Regions from separate parts of the Homo sapiens genome. Here region 1 is linked to region 2. Evidence: fine-mapped expression QTL. Tissue or cell type: whole blood. Region 2 holds a variant in brackets; the other region holds the start of a gene. All regions are shown on one strand. Distances are from middle to middle.

Region 1 (8,098 bases), 130 kb before region 2:
GATGGTGGTGACAGCTGGGGTGTAGGCCTGGAGGAAGGAGCAGGCCACACAGGCCTTTGGAGTGGGAGAGCTGTGGCTACCTCTGCAGGCCCTGCAAAGGCCCAAGGCTGGGATCTGCCAGAACCAGGATAGAGAGACGGTCTCCTGGGCATTCCACACCCATCACGCTCCTTGCTTTCCCACTTGGGAAGACACTGGGTTGCCATATGCCACCCTGCCCCTATCTCACACCCACAGTCCCCTCTATTCTTCCTCTTCTGTTTATTTGGTGCTGGCTTTCTGCATCCAGTCTTCTATTCTCAGCAAAAGCAAACAATCGCAAAACACCCAAATGCCATCTTGTGTAGGGCTTTGACCATCTGAGGCTGGCGGCCCCGTGCAGTGGCTTTATTGGCTCTTATTGGCTCTTTTCAGTTCTCTCTGCTAATCCTCCTGAGCTCCTGCTGGAGAGAGGGGTTTGGATCGGCAGCTTGCAGCTCAGAATCCCCCAGGATCTCCCCATTAGCCAAAAGCAGAACCCTCGAAGCCCCGTTCTGAGGCCCTCCCAGATGGTGGACTCCCCAGGGACAGTGTGGAGGGCTCCTCTACCTCTGTCCCCAGACCAAAGATCCTCTAGGCAAGGGCAGGGTCTGGATCCCTGGCCCTCACAGCATGGCCAGTCCTGGAGTGGCACTGTGGGCAACAACTGGGTGGTGCAGGGCAGAACCAGCATCCAGGCTACCTCCAGTGCAGTCCCACAGAGCCTCTGGTAGACCAGTGCCCTCAATCCACAGCAGAAGATGGACAGGGCTCTTCCCGGGGACCTCCCCTTCATGGCCCAAGGGTGGCTCATGAGTCAGAGCCTAGCAGGCCGCCACATCTGGGCCTGCCGTCTCCAGGCAGCCAGCTGTCAGCAGCGTCCACGGAGTTGCAAGAGTGGGGGCTAGATTGTGGGGAATGGGTGGAGGAGGGAAACCTGGCTGGACACAGTGTCCCGGGACACAAGAGGTGTCTTCCCAGGGTGAAGCTTCTTTTGCAAGGCCTGACGGGAGTTGGGGGGGCCCTTCTGGAGAATAATGCTATGCTGGCTACCGGGCTACCAGGCTGACCGAGTGCAGACATCTACCAGCCACCTGCAGGGCTTGACGAGAGGAGACTGTTTCGGCCACAAGGGCCTGTGACCTCGGAGGCAATGCCGCATGAGAGTGCTGCCTGGCGCGCTGCCTTGGCTGATTTACACACTCCCACTTCGACTCTCTAAAATCAATCTTCCCCCAATTGCCTCCTGGCTCCAGCAACGTCCTGGGTCTGCCCTGCATAAGTAACTAAATGGTCTTCTCCCATATTCTGGGCGGCTTCTGGAGCCCCTGCCACAGCCTCTGATGGGGAGGGGTGAGGGGTGAGGGGCAGCCCTGCCGGAGCCCCTGATGGGGAGGGGAGAGGGCAGGGGACCTGGGTGGGCAGGGGTCATGGGCAGTGCCTCCATATTACTGTCCACAAACAAGGGAGCTCCACTCAGTTGGTGGGTGCCTTCCTTCCATTATTTTGTGTTTGGGATATTGACTTCTTTTTCATATTAGTAAGCACTCAGAGCTGGCAGCTGGCTTAATTTTGACATATTTTATGTCAAAAGAAATGGTGGGAGGCAGGTGCAATGAATGAGCTGGGGGGTATGTTTTCCTTCCTTGAAGGCGCATGGAAAGCTCATTCTGCTCACCCTTTGTTATTATGTATTTTTTAAAGCGCCACTTACTAGGGAGTTGAGTTTCTTAAGCTGAAGGCGGACCTACTGCTTAACTAGGGGTGTTAGAAGTTCTCAGGGGCCCCTAGGCCAGGCAGTGGGGTGTGAATCCTTACCTCTGTTCTTCTTCCTGGAAACTGGCAAGAGGGTGGAGAGAGCTCCTCTTGGACCTTGCCTGGAGGTCAGGGACCCCTGCAAATTGTCCATGTGTTGTGGGAAGGGGTAGAAGGGATGAGGCCCCCCCTCTTCCATTAGCTCTCGTTTTCCTTATCTGGGACCGGGAGGTGGGAGGGGCTGTCTGGAGGGGCCACATTCCTCCTGGCAGCTTTGGTCTCTGGCTGTGCCTGCAGGTTTGAGTGTAAAACCCTCTAGCAGCCCTGTGAGGTGGCCCCATTAGCTCTCTCCTGACAGATGAGGACAGCAGGGATGGTACTGGGCTTCCAGGTAACTGTGCCACGTGCCCTTCACTACCCTGCTTATGGCTGGCTCCCTTGCTCCTATTTAAGGGGCCTATTCTCCTCCCTGCTTCATGGGGACAAACAGAAGCTGCTTCTCCAGTCATAGCCCCTGGCTCCCACCAGCCTGGCCATGGTGACCCACATCCTTGTTTCGATAAAGAAACAAGAAGCATCCCCCAACCCACAACCTTTGATCAGAAGCCACTTCCAGCTGTGGGACAGCTGCAGGGTGGGGTCAGGAGCCCCACACGCCTATCCTGGGCCACCCATCCACCTGTCCACACACATCTGTACACCACACACATCTGTACACCCTTGGCGCCAGGGACGCCCTCCCCCAACAGTGTGGGGCCCCCTTCCTTCACAGGGGCAGTGAGGTCACTCCTCAGGGTATGGCTTCATGAGCTCAGCCTCTGTGTGAGCACTCTCTGGCCTCAGTTTCCTCATCTGTATAATAGACTTAAAGATAGTCTCGACCTCATAGGGCTGTGGTGAGGTTTCTATGAGCTCACATGTGCAACGCATTTGGGCCGTGCTTGTAATGCCCTGACTCTGTTGGCAGTAGGGAGGGCAGCGTCTGCTGCAGGGTCCCTACACCTTCTCTGCAGGACTCTGCACCCAGTACCAGTGCCCAGTGGGGCAGAGGAGTAAGCCTTCTGGCAGACTCTCCCTCCTAAACCCTTCTCGGCTGTGCCCACTTCTCGCCTGCCCTCCTCCCTGGCTTCCCTTCCTCCAGCTTCTCCATTCTGCAGCCCAGGAAACCTAGAAAAGATCCTACCAGACTTAACTCATAGGCCCCACAGTGGAGGCCCCGCAGGGTCTGGCCCTTGCTTCCCTTAGGCTGCCCCTCTCTCGCGCACATTCTCCTGGACGCTGCACATTTAGAGTCCTCCAGTTGCCCCACGGCCTTTGCTCAAGCCCTTTCCCTTCTTAAACAAAAATCGCCACCTCTGCCCCGACCCTAGCCTGGGTCAGTCTCCCTCCTCTCCTCCCACGTGGTTTCTTTATTCCTATGTGTTCTTCTCCCGGGTGGGCTGGTACGCCAGATCGGGGACTGAACCAGAATCAAGATGTCCTCTGCTTCAGGACCTCCCTCCCACCACGAAAAGGCTGCAGATGCTGCCCGCTAACCCGACCTACTGTCTGCAGCCGGCAGCCCGCTCATTTATCCTGGCCGAGCTCTTGGGCCCCCAATCTCCGGGAGCCCCGCCCCATCGGGGCTCCGCCCTTCCCCAGGTACCGCCCCTTCCCGTCCCGTGGAATTTGGCTCTGGAGGAGGTGGGTCAAGGACTCCATGCCCCGCCCCCTGCCCCGCCCTTACCCCGCCCCATGCATTGGCACCCGGAGGGGCTCAGCTGACGCCGCACTTCACGTGACGCCGGTGCCGGGCGAACATGGCGGCGGCCACCGGGTGAGTGCTGCGCCTCCCTCGCTCTTTCCCGCTGGCGTGGAGAGGGGCATGGGTGTCCCGGCCGGACCGCGGGTGAGAGCGTCAGCCGGGGTCGCTGAATGCCGCGGGTAGGCGCCTCTTCCCGTTGGCCCGGAGTCCCAGCGCCGGTCGGCGAGCTGCACGCTCCGAGTCAGGGTCAGCGCGGGGGCCGCAGCTCCTCTCCACCCTCCTGGCTGGCTCCGGCCCCACCTGCCCGCGTCTGGCGGCCCCACCGTGTGCGGCTGCGGTGGGGGCTGGGGTCGACACGCATGTTCGCTGCCAAGACCCCCGGGTAGGAGGGCGGCGTTGCGAGGACCCCAGGGACCCGGGCGCTTCCCGGAGGAGGCGGTATTCGAGACGGACTTGGAATTCCCTTTTCCCAGCAGGGCACTTCCCCATTTCTTTCAGGGGCCAAATGTCACCCCCTCAGGGAATCCTTCTCTAACCATCTATCCCACTTTTTGTGCCCTCATCATCACCTGATAAACTATATAGAGCATTGTTTGTACTTGTTCTTTATCTTCTCTGCATTTAGAGTGCAAGGGCAGGTATGTTACCTGCTTCTCAGTAGCCCGGTGCCTTGCACACAGTAGGTGCTCCATACTGGGCTAAATGAAAGAAAGCTGAGTGGTCGTAGTGGGAGGAAGGGTGGACAGATGGGTTCACCAGAGCGTTGGGCGGAATCTCCCAGATAGGGAGCATCTGAGCCCAGGGTAAGGGACAAAGGTTGAGAGTTCAGAGTGTTCTGGGGACAGGGGTGCATGCCTGGGGCTGGTTGGAAGGTGTGGTGTTCCAGGTGGCGGCTTCAGACTTTGCCCTGATGGGCTGGAAGGGTTTTGTTACAAGCTGCTTGATCTGTTTTTTAAAGATTAGGCTCCCCTGAGCTATGTGTGAGTTCAATGGGAGAAGGTGTGGGTCTGGTGGTACAGTGGGGTAGAGGGGGCATGGTGTAGGAGGGAGCAGTATTCCAGATGCCAGGTTGGAAACTGAGGTCAGAATGGGGGATCTAGTGGACTGAATGCATCTCTCTTTTTAAGATACAGGGAAAATGGCAACAGAAAGTGGGTTCTAAGTTGGCCCCCAAGGTTGAGGGAGCTTAGAGCATACAAATCAAATATTTTGTGGGCACCTGCTATATTCCAGGAATAGCAGTGGGTCTTCCCTTAAGGTACTCACAGGCCACTGGAACAGATGGACACATGGGACTCTGTCATCCATCTGCTTGCCGTGTGGTCTTGCCATTTGCAAAGGAGGGGCATGGACTCTGAGCTCAGATAAAGTGTGGGAAGGCTTCACTTCCTGGGTGACTTTTGTGCTAGTCCTTCAGCAATGAGACTCCCTTCAGGTAGAGAACAGTGCAGACAAAGTCTCAGATGGGTGTCAAGGAACTCAGGGTCAGATCCTTGAATCCAGCCTGTGACCCTTTTAAAGGGTAGACTGAGCAGGCTGGTGCCCAGCTGTGGGTGTGCTGTCTCTCTGGTTAGGCTGGCTCGGTGCTCACAGGGAGTGCCAGGGGTTGCATTTGGGTTCAGGATTCCAAGCTGGCCTGAGACCTGCTGCTCTCCTGAAGGAACCAAGCTGATGTCTGGACGGGAGCAAGTCTGGAACTGACTGGATCCTGGAATGAGAGCTTTTCTTTTTCTCTTTCTTTTTTTTTTTTTGAGACGTAGTTTTGCTCTTGTTGCCCAGTCTGGAGTGCAATGGCATGATGGCTCACTGCAACCTCCACCTCCCAGGTTCAAGCGAGTCTTCTGCCTCAGCCTCCTGAGTAGCTGGAATTACAGGCGTGTGCCACCACACTCAGCTAATTTTTTGTATTTTTAGTGGAGATGGGGTTTCACCATGTTGGCCAGACTGGTCTCGAACTCCTGACCTCAGGTGATCCACCCGCCTCCGCCTCCCAAAGTGCTAGGATTACAGGTGTGAGCCACCACGCCTGGCCCCAGAATGAGAGCTTTTCTAGCAGAACCGATTCTCTGGGCCACCACACAGGGTGGGTGAGGGAGGCAAAACAGAGTGGCAGGTCTTAGAGAGGTCTGCTATTGAGAGGGTGTGGGAGCTTCCAGAGCCTGGCAGTCTCCTTGGGAAGAGCCATCCCAGTCTGGTATGGGGCTTTCCCATGTACTTTGAGCCTGAGGTTGACCCCAGTGGCTTCCTTTAGAGCAGAATGATTAAGTGTGTTTCCCGCAAAGCTCAGCTCCTAGCCACACTCACAGAACAGATCATAGAGTCAGGCATAACGAGGCATGATGCCAGCAAGTCACGGCCATTGCCGTGGGCTCACTGGGAGTTGGGTTTGGTTGTCTGTAGAATCCTACCAGAGCCTGGGACAGAGGGGGTCCATGAGAGTTCCAGGTGACTGGGGTGTGCCCCATATGATTTGGGGAGTAGGGGAAGCCCTAAACTAGCATCTCAGATTTAATTTGAAACTCAAGAATCTACTCTGAATGCATCTCTCTTTTTAAGATGTGGGGTGTTTCAGGGTTGATCCTACTTTCTCTTGCTAGCCTGGGTGTAGGCTTCAGGTTGAGACAGAGTGCGCTGAGGTCACCTCCCATCCCCTCATGGAGAGGGGTCCCTATCCCATGGCACTTGGTGGCACTGCTGCTGTCTCCTTAAGCAATGCTTTGAGCTTTCCACAGACAGGATTGATAATTTGAAATCTGTCAGCTCCAGCCAGACCTGTCTGCATCTGCTCTCCCACATGGCTTTTTCCATTCCCTTCTTCCCTTGCACACTCACCCAACTAGCCCTGGAATGTTCTTGTCCTCTATATGATTCTTCACGTATTTGCAGGCCCAGCTCAGATGGTTCCCTTTCCCAGAAGCCTTTCCCAGCCCTCGGGTAAAGGTTTAGTGCTCAGAACTCCAGAACACTCAGTTTTCTCCCCAGCAGTACACTTTTACACGTCTGCCCATTGTGGGTTAGGAGTTGCTTCCCTTCATGCCTCTCCTAGCATCCTTAGAACCCCTGGGGTTCTTTTGTATCCGCAGGGCCAGTCTGTGGCTGCCCTGTGATTGGTGCTTGGTGAAATGAATGAAAAGGGGATTTACTCTAAATTAGTCCAGCATCCCATCCTGCTTTCCTGGGAGACTCCCAGTGATTGAGGGAAGGAGTCATGGTGGGGAATGGGGACAGAATTCCGAGGGGTAGGATGAAGAAATAGCCTTAATTCTTTAACTGAGTGGCTCCCAGGAGCTGTTGCAGAGCCAAAAAGAGGCAAAGGTGAACTGCCCTGGACGTGTACCCCTGTTGAGCCGTAGGTTACACTGGAGTCAGCATTCTTCTGGAGAGTCTTCTGCAGAATTCACATTCTGGGTCAAGAGCCCAACCCCACAATGTGAACCTTGTGCTCCAGGAGCAGAAGACTCAGGCCGACTGGGGGCTAGGGACGGGTGGGCCTATGGGAGGCAGGCTGGCCACTGAGTATCCCTGTGCCTTCCCTGGCTCTTCCCCAGGTCCTGACTCCACACAGCTGTCTCTTGGTTTCTGTGTATGCTTGGCACCCCTATCCGCCCCAGGAGACAGAGGTGCAAGGTGGAGGTTGCTGGCCAGTTGCCTCGAGGTCCTGTTCCGCCGTGGCAACCCTCTCCAGCCTGGCGCTTACGGTCTGGTGCCCAGTGGGCTGCCTGAGCATCTGTCTGGTGCCTGGCCCCACGCTGGAGGCTGAGGGGAGGAGGTGGCTGGTCCTTGGCTGGCCTCTCCTACTGGGAACTTAGCGGTGTGACCCTGTCTAGAAGTGGCTCCACATTTCATTTTTTTTTTTTTTTTGAGAGGGAGTCTCACACTGGAGTGCAATGGCGCGATCTCGGCTCACTGCAACCTCCGCCTCCCGGGTTCAAGTGGTTCTCCTGCCTCAGCCTCCCGAGTAGCTGGGATTACAGGTGCCCACTACCATGCCTGGCTAATTTTTTTGTATTTTTAATAGGGATGGGGTTTCATTATGTTGGCCAGGCTGGTCTCAAACTCCTGACCTCGTGACCCACCCACTTCAGCCTCCCCAAGTGCTGGTATTACAGGCGTGAGCCACCGCACCTGGCCAGTGGCTCCACATTCTAGTGCAGAGATCTTTCCTTGTCTGTGCGGTAGACCCCACGGGCATCAGTGAAACCTACGTACCATTCTCGGCATCAGGTTTTTTTTTGTTTTTTGTTTTTTGTTTTTTTTGAAACGGAGTCTTGCTCTTTCACCCAGGCTGGAGTGCGGTGGCTTGATCTTGGCTCACTGCAACCTCCGCCTCCCAGATTCAAGTGATTTTCCTGCCTCAGCCTCCCGAGTGGCTGGGATTATAGGTGTGTGCCACTATGCCCAGCTAATTTTTGTATTTTTAGTAGACACAGGGGCTCACCATGTTGGCCAGGTGGTATCGAACTCCTGACCTCAGGTGATCTGCCCATGTCGGCCTCCTAAAATGTTGGGATTATAGGCATGAGCCACCACACCTGGCTGGCATAATGTTTTTAAATGTATGAAATAAGTACATAATATTAC
Region 2 (8,098 bases):
GGGTCTCCCATCCCGTGGTGCTGCCTGGTTCATGCTGACTCTTGGGGCAGGCACAGGCCTCAGGCCTGGCAGGGGTGTCTGGGGCCACAAGGCCAAATCCAGCTAGGCTCATCTCAGACCATGGGAGGCAGGTCCTCCCCCAGCCCCGCTCCCACCCACCACTGGGCTTTGCTGCCCAGACCCAGCCTGGGGTCTGGAGGATCCCTGTGTAAGGGAATGGAGCAGCCCCCCAGCAGCCCCCCCACACCTACCACCCACACTGAGCTGTGTGGCATTGGTGTCCCCCAAGGGCAGAGTCGGACTCCATCTGGATCACACACAGTGAAGGCCCGTGGGGCAGGCCCTGGGCCCACAGAGCTGCCCTCCGGATGGGGCAGGTCGCCTCCCGTAGCATCGAGGAGGCCGTGGCCAGGTCAGCCCCCTGCCTTGTCCCAGCGGAAATGCCCTGGGTTCGTGGGTTCAATTCCTGGGCCAAGACAAACACCCCACCGAGACTGCCCGACTGCATCCTGTGACCTTCCAGGGAGAGTAAATAAAGCAGGAAACCCCATAGCTAAGCCCAAAGGAGAGGCAGGAAAGAATGGTCAGGACCCTGGGGGGTTGAGGAATGCAGGCCTTGGCCCCTGATCCTAGGGCTGGTGGGGGAGCATTCCTCACTGTCATTCACAGTCGGCGAGGAAGGAGGCTGCGCTCGCTCAGACGGAGACCCTACCCTGGCGGCTGGGAGTCCACAGGCGGGTGGCAGGGCAGGCCCAGCAGCTGCAGGACCTCGGGGAGTGCCATGCACGGGAGGTTGGGTGGGATCCAAGCTCAGCGCGGCTCCTGTGTTGGGGCAGGCTGCCCACCCCATGCAGACCCCTGCATGCATGGTGAGGGGAATGGGGGGAGGCGCTGCTGGGACGGATGGGCGAGCCCGGCAGGGTGGCCCTGAGTCAGGGTCTGCATTGGCACAGCCACAGCAGGAAGGCTGTTCCTAGAAGCAGCACAGCTGTCCCTGTCCCGCGGGCTCAGTCCCTGCAGCCACCCTGGAGCTCCAGAGGACCCCAGCACTGAGGGCCCCATGCCCTCCGCCTGCAAGCCCCAGAGCCTCCTGTAGCCTCGCCTCCCAGCCCCGACCCAGCTCCCTCTCTCCTCACCCCCCCACCCTCCCTGGCCTCCCCGCCTTTCTCTACTCTTTCCTGTGCTCACCCAGGAGCCTCCTGTGCCCCTGTCACTGGGGGCCCAGCTCCTATCAACCTGGAACAGCAATGGTGGCCCACGATTCATGAGCTCTTTTGTGTTTCGTTCCCCCGCTCCTGGCTCTGTCCCTGCCCTCAGGGTCCTGGCCACTTGTGAGTGACGGGGGTGCTGCCAATGTGAGGTCAGAGGAGGGGAAAGAAGTGGCAGGAAGTGTCCCCACCTCCAAAACAGTCCTGACGGGGCGAGAGAGGGGCACTGAGGCGCGGGATGACCAGGTGGCTGGGAGAGGGGCCCAGCAGCACCTGCCCCGGCCCACCTGGCATGTGTCTCCTGTGGCCCCGTGGTCAGGGGGCACCTCTGCCAGCTTTGCTCCCCTCCCAGCCAGCGCCAGGGGCAGGGGCCCAGCAGCTAGACTTCCTGTCAGTCCTCATCCTCCGAGACGGCGTGGAGTGCAGGGCTCAGGCAGATAGGCATGGCGGCCATGTGCCACCCCAGTCATAGATACCCTCTGCGGCAGGTGCCAGGACGGGGAGGACTGTCTTCAGTGTGGGCACCATGTCCACCCCTCCTGCCGGCCGCAATGGTGAGCCAGTTCCTTGGCCTCTTCTTACTCCTCGGGGCACTCTGCCAGGGTGTGGGGGAGGAGACTCGAGGAGCAGCCTGGGCCAACACAGCACCCTGCTCTCACGCAGGGTGAGTGGGTCCCCAGAATTTCTGGCAGCAGATGGGGTTCTTCTACTCACGTCCCGTGCAGGGTGGGGTGAGCTGGAGGTCCTCAGCCCCGTGCCAGCTCAGCCAGCCCTCAGGGCCTGCCCTGGGACCCCGGCCGGAGCCTGCTGTCCTACACCCCTAGAGCCTGGCTCACACCCATCCATCCCGAGGGCCATGTTCCACAGATGAAGTGCGCTCTTTGTCTGGAGGCAGCTCTGAGGATGCTGCCTTTGTAGCTCGGTCAGGCCCGGGAGCCCCCTGGGGCTGTCACACTCCGGGTAGGAGGCCTCGGGGCTGTGATGGATGCTTTGAGGCTCCAAGGAGCTGGCCTGGGCCCTAGGCCCAGCAGGAGCGGGTGCTGCCTGAGGAGACCAAGTGGACCCAGAAGACCACTCAGGGGCTACGCTGGCCACACCTGGGGCCTGGGTGGCAGGAGCAGCGGGGCTTGTTCCTCTGAGCCCTGCCATTTCATGAGGCGCATGATGGGACACTAACCTAGAGGCCACCCTGCCCGTTCTAGGGTCTGAGTACACAGAGGAGTGGGGGATGGGGCACAACACTGGCTGCAGGAGAGCCATGAGAGAAGCTGGGGCTCCTCTCCTTCCAGGCGTTTACCAAGCATCCGCAGCATGCCAGGCACAGAGCAGAGTACGGGCACCACCCTTGCAAGGCCCAGAGGTCATAACCAGGCCCAGCTGTGCTGTGTGTTCCGTGAATTCTCAAAGTACAGGAAGGGGTAATCAGAGAGGGCTTCCTGGAGGAGGAGCCTCACCACAGAGGCCCACAGGAGGAATGGGAGCACATCTGGGAAAACGGGCTTGGAGGAGGTGGCCCCAGCTAAGGAAACAGCAGGTAGGGAGGGCCAGTTCTTGGGACCCGTGGCCTTGGTCCAGCCACCCCACCCAGGAGTGGGTGAGGGAGAGGCTGGAGACCAGGCCAAGCTGAGAACCTGGGCTTCGTCCGGGGCCGGGAATGGCCCTGTTTGCCCCGTTCGTTCTAAAGAGATGGCCCAGGCATCCAAGGGGTGTGCAGCGGAGGAGGGAGCCAGGCAGACTCCAGGAGGGGTGGGGCAGGTGCAGGGGTGCTTCGGGAAAGCCAGAATGAGGTTTGGTGCTTGCTGGGGGTTGGGGCACGCAGGGCAGCTGGTGCCCAATTTCTGCTGTGTGATTCTCAGTGTGGCATCTGGGTATAGGCTGGCTAGGGGCCGGGGGTGCCTTCCAGCCTGGACTAGAGAGCTTGACGGTGTCTCCAGGCTGCCAGGGTGGGAGGAGCCTGAGAGTGGGCCCAGGCCAGCAAGGGAACCCTCAAGTTGGTGCCCACCCTGCCAGCCTAGTGCAAGGACAGTGACCCTCACACACTCCAGGGGCCCCCGCCCAGGCGGTGGGTGTCGTAACCACCATCCGGGCCAGAGGCTGGGGCCAAGTTGCTGGAGGTTGAATCACTGTCACAACCCTAACCACACACAGGCAGAAACTCCCTGCTCCCGGCCAAGAGAGCTGTGTGCAAGGCCTTCCCCGAGGGTGCACAGGCAAGGAAGACCAGCGGCGCCAAGGGGACCCCCGGGCCGGCACATCTGGGCGGCGCCGGGCCTGCCCCCGGGAAGGGCCACCGCAGAGCATGATTTATACCTGATTCCCGCCCTCTGCGGAGGCTGGGCCAAGAACGTAGCCCACTGCTGAAGTTAGCCTGGTTGGAAAGCTGGCTGCACTTCCCGGGGCTCCCCTTTGGTGACCAGAGAAGGGCGCGTCCGAGAGGAAGCAGTTGAGCTGGGCTTGGGGCACGAGCCACTCACAGGAGGCCTCCCAGCCCCATGTGCCAACTTTGCAGGCTGTTGGGAGACCTGAGGGGCACTCACTTTATGCCAGGCCCAGCGGTGCCCTCGGGAGACCCCCACCCTCGGAGTGAGACATGAGAAGCAAACGAGCAGATCCGTCCAGGGGACGGCTGCAGGCTGGATGGACCGTGCAAGGAGAAATCACCAGGCCTGGGACAGCAAGGCAGGAAGGTCTCCTCTGAGAGGGGACAGCTTTTATGCAGAGACCCCTTGGATGAGGCATCACAGGTCAAGGCCTGGCACAGGCCATAGCAAAGGGCCTGAGGTAAAACGGCCTGTGTGCCTTGGGGTGGTCTGGCCTCTGGAGGATGCAGCAGCAGAGAGGAAGGGCGAGGTGGGCCAGGATTGTCCGGGCTGGGTTCTCAGAGAAGAGCAGCAGCAGAGGCTGGGCAGGCTTGGCGCACACCCCCAGGAACAAGTGAATGTCAAGTGTGGAACCAGGGCTGGCTGGTCATGCGCGATGGAGGAATGGTGGCCAATGCCACTGTCCGGGGTGCTGCCTCCAGCCCCCAGGTGACACAGAGGCTCTGAGAGCAACCCCCCGGGGCCTGCCTTGTGGCTGTTTGTTTGTTTGACCAGCGGCAGCTGAGGCTCACGGAGGTGGGGCTGTTTGACCAGCGGCAGCTGAGGCTCACGGAGGCGGGGGAGCGGCCAAGTGGGCTGCAGTTATCCAGGTGTCCTTTTCCGGGATG[T/C]TGTGCCCCTCAGAAAAGCCAGGGGTGCGGGCTGGGCCAGCCAGGGGTGTGTGTGCCCAGGGCTGCCCCAGATACAGGGCAGCTGCAGCCAGAGTTGCCCCAGGTCTGCCCGGGCTCTCCCCCACGCCAGACCCCGGGCTCTCCCCCACGCCAGACCCCAGACCCCGGGCCCTCCCCCACGCCAGACCCCAGACCCCAGACCCCGGGACGGCCTCCCCGACGCCAGACCCCAGACCCCGGGACGGCCTCCCCCACGCCAGACCCCAGACCCCGGGACGGCCGCCCCCACCTCAGCCCCTAGGAGGCTGGGCTGATGGGGAGCTGGGCTCTGAGGAGGATCCCTGCTCTGTGTGGGGGGTGGGGGCAGGTCTGGGCATCTCCACCCCTGCCACCCTTAGGCTGCTGCCGTGGCTGGGGCGCTGTGCTGTGAATGGCGGGCAACAGCCATACTGCCTGCCCAAAGCCGTGCACCCCCAGCCCGCCTGAGACCCCAGCACCACAGTGGCCAACTCTGGCACTTAAAGGGGTCCCAACATGAAGGACTTGTGCCCAGTGTGTCGGGGGTGATGGCCTGTGTCCCAGTGTGGACTCTCATCCCTGTTCGCCAGCCGAGCCCATCATCTGCCCTCCGCCAGCCACAGAGGTTCAGAACCCTGCTTCTCACAGCCCAGCCCTCGCCAGCTCAGGGTCTCCCCGGCCCCTCCCACAGCAGTGATCGGGACCATGCAGAGCAGGCTCTGGCTCTGCGCCAAGGCAAGCCTGGCAGGGAGGCCCTCGGGAGCCAAGGTCACTCCGCCTGGTGGGGCTGGACCTCTCCAGGAGGTGCCGCAGGGACTTGCTGGGCGCCCTCTCCAGCCAGTGAGCTGCACATTGATAGGGGCCCCCCGCCACGTGCCTGGCCAGAGTGTCCTGGGGCCCCGGCCTCTGCCAGCACGTGGCCTGCCCAAACCCAGCCCCCATGGGGCCAGGGCAGGAGGCCTCACCGGCCTCGAGTCCTTATCTGGTGCTCAAGCCAAGTCCAGCAGTGGAAGCTACCATGAGGAGAGGCTGATGCTGGGATTCCACAGAGTCCGGGGATGGGACGGGCGCACCCGTGGGCTGCTGAGGCTCTACGTGGAGAGCTCTCTAAGGGCCTCCTTCCTAGCGGCCATGCTCCAGAGCCCCACAGAGCCTGTGTGGCCCCCAAAGCTCTGTGCTTAGGAAGTTCTCTCTTTGGTGGCCTTTGCCCCACAAACATGCGGCAGAGATGAGTTGGATTTGAAGCCGGGAGTTGGACATCTGGCTCCCCTGGAGATGGTGCCCCTGCTGTTGGCAGGCGGGGCCCCGAACCCCTGCCAGCCAGCTCGTGGGGCCGTGCCAGCCGCACCTTCTCCCCAGAAACCTTTGCTCCCTGCAGCAGCTCCAGGGGTGTTTCATCCCCATTCTGGGATGTGCAGGGACCCCTCTTTTCAGCCTCGGGCTTCCCCACTGCACCACAGCAGCAAAACCCCATCGGAGCTCTGAGCCAGGGTTTGGGTCTGAGCCTCAGGGCCAGAGCCCACAGAGTCTCCTGGTGTCTGCTACTGGGGAGACGTGCATGTTTCTCCTGGTGCCCAGGGATTTGGCTAGGTTTCCCTGGGCCCAGAAGCATAGGCTGTTCAGGGTGGACACACCATGGGCTACAGAGTAGACCCAGGCTGGGCCCTTGGCTACAGGTGACAGGAACCTGCCCCTAGAGGCAGAATGGAGGGACAAGAAGGGTCCCGAGGGCCAGAGCTTTTGCTGGGAAAGCCCAGCACGGGGGGCCACCCTAGTCCTTGTCCCCCTGGGCCCCCGATGTAGTACCCTTGCCCCCTCACCCCCCACCTCAGGCCCTCCCACCACAGCCAGTGTGAGGGCTTCACATCTCCCAGCCCCTGGCCCTGCGGTGTTGGCTGCTGGGCTCTGTGGCTCACGGCAGCTCCCTCTGGCCCACAGGTGTCTGGTGGCCTGACATGCACCGCCTGGCTGACCGCATCCACCTGGAGGAGCTGGCCCACATGGGCATCCTGAGCGGCAGCGTGGACGCCATGGTCCAGGCTCACCTGGGGGCCGTGTTTATGCCTCACGGGCTTGGCCACTTCCTGGGCATTGACGTGCACGACGTGGGAGGCTACCCAGAGGTCAGTGTGGACATGGCAGGCGGAGTGGCCTGCCCATCAGCTGCCGCTGAGCCTGACCCCCAGGGCAGGGTGGGACTCTAGGAGGCAGCAGGCGTGTATTGGGATGGCAGGGATGGGCCCCATGGCTCCCTGTGGTATACGGAGGCCATGAGGAGGGGGGAATCGGGACCCTGGCCAAGACAGGGGTGCATCTGTGAGCATTCCACAGAACTGGACATAGAGGCGGTGCTGTCTGCCTGCTGGGCCCAGGTGTCACCTGTCCAGAAGGTGGCACACAGTCAGGATACGGTGCATGGGGCCCCACAGGACAGTGGTGCTAAGGACAGGTCTTCGTGATGGAGCTACGTGGCACCCCTCACGTCCTGCCGCCTCTGGCTTCATTCAGACCTGGGGCGTGGGGAGTTGATGAGGCCCCACCCACTGGCGACTCACCCTGGCCCCTCACAAACCCGGAGCAGCCCTGCTCTGCCGCTGGTTCGCCCTCTCCTCCCAGGCCCCTGGGCCGCACACCTGGGACCCTGCAGCCTCCTCATCCCCAGGCATTCTGGGGCCCGTTGGCAGATAAGGGAGGCTGGGGGCCATCTCCAGACAAGGTTCCCCGGCCCTCAGAGGACCACCCAGAGGGTAAGTGAGGCTTGGGGAGGCCCAACCGGGCAGGTGGCTACGGCCTCTCGGCTGGGCGGCTGGGGCGCTCCCATCCCTGCCCTTGGCGGGCTGCCCAATGCAGGGGGCTGATTGTGCAATCGTGCACGCCCTGGGGCCCCCCAGCCAGTTAGCCAAGACAAGGCTCAGCCTCTTGGCTGCAGGGTGTTTTGAAAGCACTAAGAATGATTTTTTGGCAGGGTGGGGGCAGTGGGGGGAATTGCTTAAGAGAAGCATTATTATTCAATTATTTTTTTCCTCAAGTGTAAACAGTTAAATTTGGAGAAACAAAATCAGTTTTAATTTCCTAATGTCTATTCATCCCATTGTGTGCAGGGAGCCAAGAGCTGGGCCTTCCAGACATTGTTAGCTGAGGTTCGTTATTCATTAGTCGCCAAAGCGCTTTTTTTCCACCAGCAAAAATTGGCAGCAAACTGTTTTCATCTTTTCCAGTAAGCACCTCTTTGTGCTCAGAGTCTATTCTTCTGACAGATAAACATTGTGGAAAAAATATGGCTTTTCCTATAAAAGTCATTTGTTTTATTTCAGGCCTGCAGACACATCTGGGGCTCCTCTGCTTGGAGCCCAATAAAAGTTGAGGCCTTGTCAAGCCCTGTGCCCAGGCAGAGGCGAGCATGGGCGCGGTGAGGGCAGGACCCCTCCCCACCCCTGAAGGCTGCGCTTCCTGGGCCACAGGGGCTCGTGCCCTCCCCACATGGCTCTGCGCTCCACCCGGCCCAGCCCTTCCCATTCTCTTATGGCGCCTGCGCCCTGTTCTCAGCAGGTCCCCCGGGCAGGCCCCTAGAGCCAACACCCTGAAGGGGCAGCTGCGCCACTGGGCTGAGGCAGGCCTTGCCCTGTGCCCGCTGGGGATCCCTTCTAATCTCCCCCACCCCACT

Evidence for each region. PIP is the estimated chance that this variant, and not a neighbour inherited with it, causes the effect.
Region 1: PEPD starts here. The variant in region 2 is fine-mapped to the expression of PEPD in whole blood (GTEx, PIP 0.94). The same link has a PIP of 0.9 or more in esophagus muscle.

What each region holds. Positions count from the first base shown.
Region 1 is chr19:33,517,235-33,525,332 of GRCh38, reverse strand. It overlaps PEPD (peptidase D), which reads left to right and starts at 3,542. Exons shown (of 15, transcript NM_000285.4): 1 at 3,542-3,589. The coding sequence starts at 3,573. It overlaps LOC105372370 (a long non-coding RNA gene), which reads right to left and starts at 3,399. Exons shown (of 3, transcript XR_935918.3): 1 at 3,319-3,399; 2 at 1,837-1,912. RefSeq lists enhancers at 2,315-3,277, 3,278-4,241 and a silencer at 3,333-3,532.
Region 2 is chr19:33,389,754-33,397,851 of GRCh38, reverse strand. It overlaps PEPD (peptidase D), which reads left to right. Exons shown (of 15, transcript NM_000285.4): 13 at 6,373-6,557. Among named protein-coding and RNA genes, the nearest start is that of CEBPG, 20 kb to the right of the region's middle. RefSeq lists enhancers at 930-1,759, 1,760-2,589, 4,577-5,341, 7,513-8,098. The variant T/C (reference allele first, on the strand shown) is at 4,417.